2 separate regions of the Homo sapiens genome follow, and region 2 is linked to region 1. The links come from fine-mapping of genetic effects on gene expression. A gene starts in region 1. The other region holds a variant in brackets. All regions are shown on one strand. Distances are between the middles of the regions.

What was found. PIP is the estimated chance that this variant, and not a neighbour inherited with it, causes the effect. A credible set is the group of variants that fine-mapping cannot tell apart.
Region 2: its variant is the best candidate, but not a certain one, in a credible set for the expression of ST14 in whole blood (TOPMed, PIP 0.63).

The regions. Positions count from the first base shown.
Region 1 is chr11:130,157,101-130,162,463 of GRCh38, forward strand. It overlaps ST14 (ST14 transmembrane serine protease matriptase), which reads left to right and starts at 2,682. Exons shown (of 19, transcript NM_021978.4): 1 at 2,682-2,960. The coding sequence starts at 2,880. RefSeq lists silencers at 2,561-2,680, 2,761-2,830 and an enhancer at 3,918-4,417.
Region 2 is chr11:130,191,596-130,196,958 of GRCh38, forward strand. ST14 (ST14 transmembrane serine protease matriptase) reads left to right here. Exons shown (of 19, transcript NM_021978.4): 8 at 2,554-2,693; 9 at 3,045-3,142; 10 at 4,744-4,853; 11 at 4,975-5,105. Among named protein-coding and RNA genes, the nearest start is that of ST14, 34 kb to the left of the region's middle. The variant G/A (reference allele first, on the strand shown) is at 3,157.

The DNA.
Region 1 (5,363 bases):
ACCCAGGAGTGCACATAGGGTGCATGCAGCAAGGTATCCCCATGCAGCCATCCTAGGGGAAGGGTCTTGTCCTGCATCGCTTTCTCTTCATCTGCACTAGCAGTCAATGCATTGCATTCATACGGCATCCAAATCACGCTGAGCGCCCAGCTCTACGAGATAAAAGATGAGGCCCTAGGAAGTGGGGAGACAACGTGAGTCACTGCGTTTGCAGCAGCACAGAAGGTCTGTGTGTCAGGAGTACCATCTCATTTACGTCACATTGAATTTGGCTTACTTTCCATCACTCACACTAGTTGAAGAATGCTGTGCCATTGGTAATCCAAAGGAAAATTTATTTTTATATATTTTCTTTTTCTTTTTTTTCTTTTCTTTTTTTTTTTTTTTTTTTGAGAGATGGAGTCTCGCTCCAGGCTGGAGTGTAGTGGCATGATCCCGGCTCACTGCAACCTCCACTTCCCAGGTTCAAGCAATTCTCCTGCCTCAGCTTCCCAAGTAGCTGGGACCACAGGCATGCACCACCATGTCCAGCTAATTTTTGTATTTTTAGTAGAGATGGTGTTTCACTATATGTTGGCTAGGCTGATTTCAAACTCCTGACCTCAGGTGATCCACCCACCTCAGCCTCCCAAAGTGCTGGAAGCCAACGTGCCAGCCTTTTAGAAATATTTTCTGTTTAGCTTTGGAATGCTTTATGTGATGGAAGGCAGCAGATTCATTCTTCTTTCAATTAAATTGACCCAATATATTGTGTTAGTCATTGTGCTAGGCTTTGAGGGTGCAAAGGCAGTTAAGACACAGACAGAAAATGCAACGAAATGGTGGTGAGCTCCATGAGAGAGGTACAAACAGAGCTAGTTCTGGTTGAGAGGGAAGGAAACTCCTGGGGAGGAGGTAGCATATCAGTCAGGAAGCGTGAGGTTTGCAGCAATAACAAACAACCCTCAGCTCTCGGTGGCTTAACATCCCAAAAGCTGACTGACTCCTCATTCATGCTACATATCCAGTGTGTGTCATTGTAGCCACTTAGGGTCACAGGTCACAGAGTTAAACCTCTCAGAAGAGAGCAGGGCATTGTGCAGTGCCTCCTTATGCTGCTATGTACAAGTGGTGTGTCCTCTCATTGGACATTTTCTTGGTTACCGCTAGCCATACTGCCATACCTAACTTCAGAGAAGAGAGAGTAACACCCTGGCCTGTGCCCAGAAGGCAGAGAGCTAAAAACATTCAATGAACAACACTAAAAAACCCCATCGGTGTCTTCGACCCAATATGCGGAAGGAGTATGAAGGAGAAGAGCTTCCAGGGGATGAAAAGCTTTATGAAAGCTGCCAAGATCAGAACGCCTGGCTGGAGAGAGGGGCTCCAAACAGGAATGCTTGGAGGCACGGTGTTAAGGGAGGACAGGGCAGAGTGTGAAGCTGGGCTAAGGAGGTTGGATTTGATCCGGGAGACACGGAAAGTCATAAAGGAGCTGTGGTTTCAGATTTACCTGACTGCTTTGTGTAGGAGAGATCAGAGGGTGGCAGCCCAGAGGCAGGAGATCTTTCTTAACCAGGCAAAGGGCTCTGAGGACTCGAATAGCGGTCTTCTAATGCGCAGGAATGGAAGGGCTATGCTTGTCAGCAGAGTCTTGATCAGATTTGGAACTAATTGGATATGAGATGTAAGCAGGGTGGAGAATCAAAGATGATTCCAGGATTTGAGCCTGGGAGAATGCTGCCATTAGAATTAGAGAAAACAGTGGAAAATGGGCAAGTCAGGGAAGGAAGATGGGGCTTGTTGATCTCAAAGCAGGGATTTTTATTTTGTTCACTCCTGTTTCCCTGTACCCAGGACAGTGCTTAGCGCCTAGTGTGTGCTTGGTAATGTTCATTGGCTACAGAATACAGTAGAACATAAATGGAGACGTCCCCAGGCGACCGCTAAGGCAGAACTGGCACTCCTTGGTGGTGTCTGTGCTGGGAGGGAGGTCTTCCTGTCTGAAGTCGTAAGATGAGACGTGCTGCCAAGAGAAAAAGCTTAGAGAAGAAAGGGATGAAACTGAAGGGAGAACTTTGGGAATCATGACATTTAGGACTAGAAAGGAGGACCGGAATCCAGGGAAAGGGGGCATTTGAGGAAGCATCAGATGCTGCAAGTGGGCGAGGGGCGTTGGGATGGCTCAGAGGGCATCTGGTGGCACAGCTCATGTCACTGGGCCTCCCCAGGGTAGCCGGGCGCAGGCCAGCAAGCGCCTCCCGCCTGGAGAACAGGAGGCTGCGTAGCCGACGGGGAGCCTGGGCCAGGGGCGGTTCTGGTTTCTGTTTGGTTTTGGGGGGTTCATAAATGCGATTTAGTCCTGTAGCAAAGTGAGCAAGGTGAAGGGGAGAGACCGGAGGCGCATGAGGGAGGAGGGAAAAGATGGTTGGCATCAAGGAGGTGGATAAAGGGCTGCCCTCCCGGGGCAGGGCCCCTGGAGGGCCGGAGGGGTGGTGAACGCCGTCGTGGTGATGGTGAGGGCCTTAGCGACCACCACCCGAGTGAGGCCCCCTCACCTTCAGGCCCAGAGCCGAGGGGAGGAGCCTCCCCCAGGGCCGGCGGGGGCGGGCAGGTGAGCCGGGCAGGTGCGCAGGCGAGCGCGGCGGGCTGGGCGGGCCGAGGCCACACCCTGAAACTACCTGCGTGGGCCGGGCCGGAGTGTGAGAGCGGAGCTGCAGCCGGAGAAAGAGGAAGAGGGAGAGAGAGCGCGCCAGGGCGAGGGCACCGCCGCCGGTCGGGCGCGCTGGGCCTGCCCGGAATCCCGCCGCCTGCGCCCCGCGCCCCGCGCCCTGCGGGCCATGGGAGCCGGCCGCCGGCAGGGACGACGCCTGTGAGACCCGCGAGCGGCCTCGGGGACCATGGGGAGCGATCGGGCCCGCAAGGGCGGAGGGGGCCCGAAGGACTTCGGCGCGGGACTCAAGTACAACTCCCGGCACGAGGTGAGCGCGGGCCGGGGACCCGGGGCGCTGGGAAGCTCCTGCCCGCCCGACCCTGCAGCGCGGCGCTGGGCTCGGCCGGCTCCCCTGGCGTGTCCGTCGGTGGCCGAGCTCTGGGCGCACAGGTGGAATTTCCTGTTCAGCGGGTGCCGGGCCGCGGGCGGGCGGGGCTGGCCGGACCTTTGGTACCGGACCGGCTGCGCCCCGCCAGGGGGAGGCGGGAAGCCCCTGGGCCTTCCTGCGCCCTCGGTCCTTTCTTTCCCTGAGTTGAAAAAAGGGGCTCCGTCTCGGCCCCTCCATGACTCTCGCGCTGTTAGTGAACATCTGGAAGAAACCAGGGGCTTGGAGTGGGGTTATTTGGGAGGAAGTGAAATTTCAGGAGGGTTTGGAGTCTCAGCCATCCTTGGCCTCTGCAGAAAGTTTCTTTCGTCTCTCTCCTTCCCCGTCAAAAGGCGCTTTGGGACCTCGCAGAGGACAACTGGGAGGCCAGGGCTTTGGCTGCCATACGGGCTGGAGCTAAGAACTCCAGAGTTGGGCTTGCCTGGGCTTCTCGAGAGGGGATGGAGCCCTTTGGGAAGGCGGCTGTATGGGAAGGGATGTGGGAACACACATGTCTTGAGCCTTTTGCGAAGTACCGAAACAGGAAGCTCTTCTTTGGCAGAAAGAACAATGAAAGACCTATTGAAAGATCTCAAAAAGATTACATGTTCCTGTATGGAGTTGGGGATGGGTCGCTAGTCACTTCATTGACGGACCCACCTAGGTGGTAGTGCCCGGGCGGGACCAGCAGCCAGGTCTCTACCCTCTCTGTCCAAGGCAGACCCCCAGGTTTCCTGGAAGGCCAGGGCATACCAGGTCAGGGCGGCGCTGAGAGGCAGGGGCTGTGTGGCAGAGAGTTTTGCTCCTCTGCAAATGATGGCCTCCCTGCCCTGCCAACCCTCACTTTCTCCCCTCCTTCCGGGTGCCCCTGGGCTCCATAGTCTCCGCCGTTGCTCCCTAAGTCAGGCCTGATTTTGGTGCTGTCTCAGATCAATTCCTTTTGTCCAAGCAGCATCCCGACCTAGGGAGCTTGCAGAAAATCAGACGCTGGGGCTTTGGAGGCTGCCTGCACCACAGACAGGACCTGGGGCTGGGCTCTGCTATTTTCTCCACTTTTCACCCTCAGCAAGGAGGAAAGCTTCCAGTGGACCTGAAGGCTTGGGCCCTTCCCCTGGCTGTGCCTGTGCCCTGCTGTGAGGCAGATTCACCTTCTCTTCCTTGCTGTAATTGCTATGTTTGTGTCCTTGCTAATTGCCTACTTGGGGTTCTAGACTCCCTGCCTCTTCAGCAGAGAACCTGCTGTTTGGAATTTGTTATTTCAGGGCAGTCCGGTGCCCCCACCCCAAGTTTGTTCTCCCTGACTTCCCTTTCTAGGACTCTCCTGCCCACACGGGGAAAGCAGGGTCTTCCTGGTCGTGTGGTCCAGCCTCCTCTCTGAGCCATCTCACCACCTGACAAGCAGCCAGGCTGGGGCTCACCTTCCACTCACCCCCAGGATCCCACATTCAGCGGACTTGTCTTGTCACCTGCAAGCCCTGGCTTTAGTTTCCCCCATCCCTGCTCATTTCCTCCTCCTCTGCGAAGCTCATTTGCTCTCTGCGCCCTTGGGCTGTTCCTTCCCCCTCTGCCATTTTCATTCTCTTGGCTTGCTCTTTGTCTTTTCTCCTGCCGAGCTTTATTGAACTAACTCAGTACCTAGTCCCATGGGTGAAGGGAAGGCTCTCAGAGACCAGTAAGATGTGGTTGTTTCCTTTAAAGAACATCCAGTCTTGAGAGCGAAACTAAGAGACGAATGCCAAAGTTAGCTGTGAGGCGGAGTGTCCAGAGGAAATTGGCCAAAGCTCATTTCCATGTCTTGCAGATTCCTCCCATCCCTGGCCTCACCAGAAATCCCAGTCCCTGGGATCACCCTGTAGTGTGTGTTTGCAGCTAGGATGTCCATCCCCGGCCGGGAGGTGTGGCTGCTGCCCCTGGGTTTATTATCTGGGTCAGCAGAGCCTGGCCCACAGGGTGCTGTTGTTTCTGGGTTCCTTGTCCCCAGTTGCATCCATCCGTGCACCCTTGTTTGGTGGTATTTGTATCTGGCTGTCCCCTTCCCAAGGCTGGTGGTGTGGCCCCTGCCCCACCCCTGCTGTTCCCATCAAGTGTTCTGCGTGGCCTTCAGAGTCCTGATGCACGTTACTGCATCTGGGGATGGTGTGAGCCCTGCCTGCAAGCAAGCAGGGAAACAGATGCCACTTCTTATGGCCATTAATGAGAGCCAGGGAGCCTGCCTCCCTGAGGGTCTTGATTCCTGTTGAGTATTTGATGGTGAATATGAAGCTGCCTTGACATCCACTGGTTCCTTTTCCGATCACAATTGCCCTA
Region 2 (5,363 bases), 34 kb after region 1:
GGGAGAATCACTTGAACCTGGGAGGCAGAGGTTGCAGTGAGCCGAGATCGTACCACTACACTCCAGCCTGGGCAACAGAGCGAGACTCTGTCTCAAAAAAAAAAAAAAAAAAAAAGAGCCTTTATATGGTTTACACAGAAAAGGCAAGACAAATCAGGGTGAGAGGTTTAGAACTGGCTTGTTTGAATAATTTCAGTAGGCTCCGGGGCATAGGAGCTGTCCCTAGTTCTCTGATACTTGGGCCTGGGGTGGTTAGGGCAAAGAATAGTGGCCCTGAGTGTGAGATCCTTTCGGAGGAGGTGGGGCTGGGCCCCCATAGGTGGGTTTGCATAGGGAAGGTTTGCTTGCAGGTGAGTCCTTTCCTATCTCTAAGCATTGGCCAGCCTTCCACAGTCAGCAGGGCCTCAGATGTCAAAGCACCTGCATTACAGAAAACGGAAAGGCGTGGTTAATGCACCTGTGGGATACCCCACGTCAGGGTGGGGCGTACCTCGCAGAGGTGCTGTGCGTGGTGGGTGAGCCGCCTCTCCTGCACTCGCTGGGCCAGAGCCTTCCGTGGCTGTCTAGGGAAATGAGCTCGGCGGACGTTTCCTGATTAATAATGGGCTAAAATTCAGGCCAAGAACAACCTAGAACCATCTGCCGCCACAGCTTCGTAACCAGGACTTCTTTTCCATCTCTCTAATTTATTAATTGTACAACAAAGAAGTACATGTTCCCAGTGGGAGAAGGAAATCGGCAAGCAAAAGGAAGACTAAAGTCACTCGTCATCTTACTGTCTAGAAATAACCACTGTTAATTCTTTTTCTTTGAGATGGAATCTCGCTCTGTCGCCCAGGCTGGAGTGCAGTGGCAAGATCTCGGCTCACCGCAACCTCCGCCTCCTGGGTTCATGCGATTCTCCTGCTTCATCCTCTCGAGCAGCTGGGATTACAGGCATGCGCCACAACACTCAGCTAATTTTTTTTGTATTTTTAGTAGAGATGGGGTTTTACCATGTTGGTCAGGCTGGTCTCGAACTCCTGACCTCAGGCAATCTGCCTGCCTTGGCCTCCCAAAGTACTGGGATTACAGGCGTGAGCCACAGCACCCGGCCAAATTTTTGATGTCTATTTTCCCAGCCTTTTTTGCTGTGTGTGTGTTAAGAAATAGGATTATCCCGTGCATTCAGTCTCATTACCTGCTTTAACAAATGAAGTATATTATGATGGTCTTTCCAAATCAGTCACCCTCTCTCTCAGGGTTTTTATAAGGTTGCATTGTTTAGAAGGAGGGGACACAATCAGGATGACATGGTTGTGAGCAGTGTGGACTCTGGAGCTTGAATGCCTGAGTTTAAATTCTAAGCCTGCCACTTATTAACCATGAGATGTTGGGCAAGTTACTGAACATCTCTGTGTCTCAGTTTCCTCACCTCTGAGATAGGGGTAATAGTATCTACTTCATAGAGCTGTTAGGAAGATTATGAGTTAATAGATTTAAAAGCACCGAGAACCATGCCAGGCATGTTTTTTTTTTTGAGTCTCCTTGTCACCCAGGCTGGAGTGCAGTGGCGCAATCATAGCTCACTGTAACCTTGAACTCCTGAGGCTCAAGCAGTTCTCTGGCCTTGCCCCGGAGTAGCTGGGACTGCAGGCAAGCGCCACCATGCCCAGCTAGTTTTTTTGATTATGGAGATGAGGCGTTACCCAGGCTGGTCTGAAACTCCTGGCCTCAAGCAATTCTCCTGCCTTGACCTCCCAACAGGCTGGGATTATAGGCCCGACCTTGGCATGTTCTTAATAAATGTTGATTGTTACTACTGCTGTTGTTCTGATTGAGCCCACAGTTTATTTAATAAATCCTCTGTTGTGGGCATGTATTGTGTCTAGGGTGTTGCTCTTTTTTTTTTTTTCTGACAGTCTCGCTGTGTCGCCCAGGCTGGAGTGCGGTGGTGCGATCTCGGCTCACTGCAACCTCCGCCTCCCGGGTTCCGGTGATTCTCCTGCCTCAGCCTCTGGAGTAGCTGGGATTACAGGCGTGCACCGTGATGCCCAGCTAATTTTTGTATCTTTAGTAGAGATGGGATTTCACCATGTTGGCCAGGCCGGTCTCGAACTCCTGACCTCAGGTGATTCACCCGCCTTGGCCTCCCAAAGTGCTGGGTTTATAGGCGTGAGCCACTGCGCCCGGCTGGGTGTTGCTCTTTGATTGTGACAAAGGTGAACTGTTTATCACTAGCGCCTTCCATCAGTGATTGTGACAAAGGTGAACTGTTTATCACTAGCGCCTTCCATCAGTGATTGTGACAAAGGTGAACTGTTTATCACTAGCGCCTTCCATCAGTGATTGTGACAAAGGTGAACTGTTTATCACTAGCGCCTTCCATCAGTGATTGTGTGGGGGAGGGACTTACTTGAATGAAGGTCTTTTTGACTCCATTCTTGGCCTCTGTGGATGGGACCAGAGTTAGGGGTGGGGTCCTCAGGCACCTCTGCCTGAGAGCCTGGTTTGGGTGTGTGAGAAGCTTGGGTTCTGTCTGCTCTTCCTAATGCCCGCCCTCTGCCCCCACAGGTTGTGTGGCACCTACCCTCCCTCCTACAACCTGACCTTCCACTCCTCCCAGAACGTCCTGCTCATCACACTGATAACCAACACTGAGCGGCGGCATCCCGGCTTTGAGGCCACCTTCTTCCAGCTGCCTAGGATGAGCAGTAAGGAAGGGCAGGGCAGGGCGGGACTGCCCTCGGGCCACAGAGAAGGGGAAGGCCTTAGTGGGGGTGACCTGAGCTTAGGAGGCCACAGGCTAGACCCTGTGGTTGGCGAGCTGGCCTAGGTCAGCAGCAGAGGCTGAAGCTTGAGCCAAAGGCATCTGGCCGACCGCCTGGGTCAGGAGCCCTCCTGAAGCTTCGGCACCCGGCACCTGGCCTTCCTGGCTGTGCACCTGCTGTGCAGCATCCACGCGTCCAGGAGGCAGCTCCAGGCCTCAGGCTGCAGAGCCCTCGTCCGCCTGCTCGGCCGGGCAGGTTCCTGATCCTCTTGCTTTCTCCCACCTTCCCTCTCAGGCTGTGGAGGCCGCTTACGTAAAGCCCAGGGGACATTCAACAGCCCCTACTACCCAGGCCACTACCCACCCAACATTGACTGCACATGGAACATTGAGGTAGGAGCTATGGG[G/A]CGTGTGAACGTGTGTGTGTGTGAGCATGTATGTGCACGTGTGTGTGTCTCCCTGTGCAGATGTGTGTGGATGTGTGTGCATGTGTTTGCATATGTGTGCATGTGTGTGTGTGTGTGTGTGTGTGCGTATGTGTGTGTGTGAGACAGAGGTGGATGGCAAATGAGGAAGACAGAAGAAAAGGAAGAGGAGATCCTTTATCAACCCCAAAGAGGCAGCCAGATGTCGTGACTCACACCTGTAATCTCAGCACTTTGGGAGACCAAGGCAGGAGGATCACTTGAGGCCAGGAATTCAAGACCAGCCTGTGTAACATAGTGAGACCTCATCTCTACAAAACACTACAAAAATTAGCCAGGCAGGTGATACATGCCTGTAGTCCCAGCTACTCAGGAGGCCGAGGTGGGAGGATCACTTAAACCCAGGAGTTTAAGGCTACAGTAAACTATGACAGTGCCATCGCACTCCAGCCTGGGCAACAGTGAGACCCTGTCTCAAAAAACAACAAAAACAAATAAACAAACCCCAAAGAGACCATGTGTCTTAGGGCCCAGGGTGGGGTCAGGTCTTCCTGCAGTGTCAGGCAGACCCAGACTCTTATCTTAGCTCCTTGTCAGGTGATGGAACGACCTGGGCAGTTGCTGAAGCTCCCTGGGCCTCAGCTTGCCCCTAGGTGAAGTGAGGGTGATAGTGCCTGGGTCTCAGAGGCGCCGTCAGGAAGAAATCAAAGAAGGTGTGTGAGACAAGAGAGTCGCCTGTCCGTGCCGCTCACGCCATCCCAGCCAGAGCTGCCTCCCTTTCCTTTCTTTAAAAATGCCAGGAGGGCCGGGCGCAGTGGCTCACGCCTGTAATCCCAGAACTTTGGGAGGCCAAGGCAGGTGGATCACGAGGTCAGGAGTTCGAGACCAGCCTGGGCAACATTGTGAAACCCTGTCTCTACTAAAAATACAAAAATTAGCCGGGTGTGATGGCGGGCACCTGTAATCCCAGCTGCTCGGGAGACTGAGGCAGGAAAGTAGCTTGAACCCGGGAGTCGGAGGTTGTGGTGAGCTGAGATCTTGCCACTGTACTCCAGTCTGGGTGACAGAGTGAGACTTTGTCTCAAAAAAAAAAAAAAAGAAAAGAGGCTGGGTGTGGTGGCTCGTGCCTGTAATCCCAGCACTTTGGGAGGCCGAGGCGGGCAGATCACCTGAGGTCAGGAGTTTGAGACCAGCCTGACCAACATGGTGAAACCCCATCTCTACTAAAAATACAAAAAAAATTATCTGGGTGTTGTGGCTTGTGACTGTAATCCCAGCTGCTCAGGAGGATGAGGCAGAAGAATGGCGTGAACCCGGGAGGCGGAGGTTGCGGTGAGCTGAGATCTTGCCACTGCACTCCAGCCTGGGCGACAGAGCAAGACTCCATCTCAAAAAACAAACAAACAAACAAACAAACAAACAAACACGCTGGGAGAACTTTGCAACCTGTCTTGGTGATGGAAGGCATACCATCTCTCCCTGGTCCATGCCGCTGCCTCCCTTTGACGTCCTCAGGTTCAGGGAGGAGGGAGGGGAACTGCACATTCCCAGCAGCCTCTCTTCCCTCAGGTGCCCAACAACCAGCATGTGAAGGTGCGCTTCAAATTCTTCTACCTGCTGGAGCCCGGCGTGCCTGCGGGCACCTGCCCCAAGGACTACGTGGAGATCAACGGGGAGAAGTGAGTCCCCGGGGGTATGGGGGCTGCCGGGCCCATGCTGCAGGGGGAGGGGTCCCACCAGACCCCCAGCCCCCCGGCTCCCAGCTGTCCCTCCTCACCTTGTGCCCCGCCCCCCCTCCAGATACTGCGGAGAGAGGTCCCAGTTCGTCGTCACCAGCAACAGCAACAAGATCACAGTTCGCTTCCACTCAGATCAGTCCTACACCGACACCGGCTTCTTAGCTGAATACCTCTCCTACGACTCCAGTGACCGTGAGTGAACATTGTTGGGAGGAGGGCTGGCGGGGGCCTGCACCGCATGTTCTGTCTACCCTGCATCTCGTTAGCATCGTGCTTTGCTGATTCTAAAATGCTGGAGAATGTAAGAGCATCTCACCCCTCCCGTAGCTTTGGGAGGAAAACACGCTACCTTTGATGCATTAATGAAAGCAGGCTGGCTGTGAGCGCTGGCACACACTGTGTCCTTCTGGGTTGCAGTCCCAGCATGAGGTACCTGCGGCTGGAGACGCC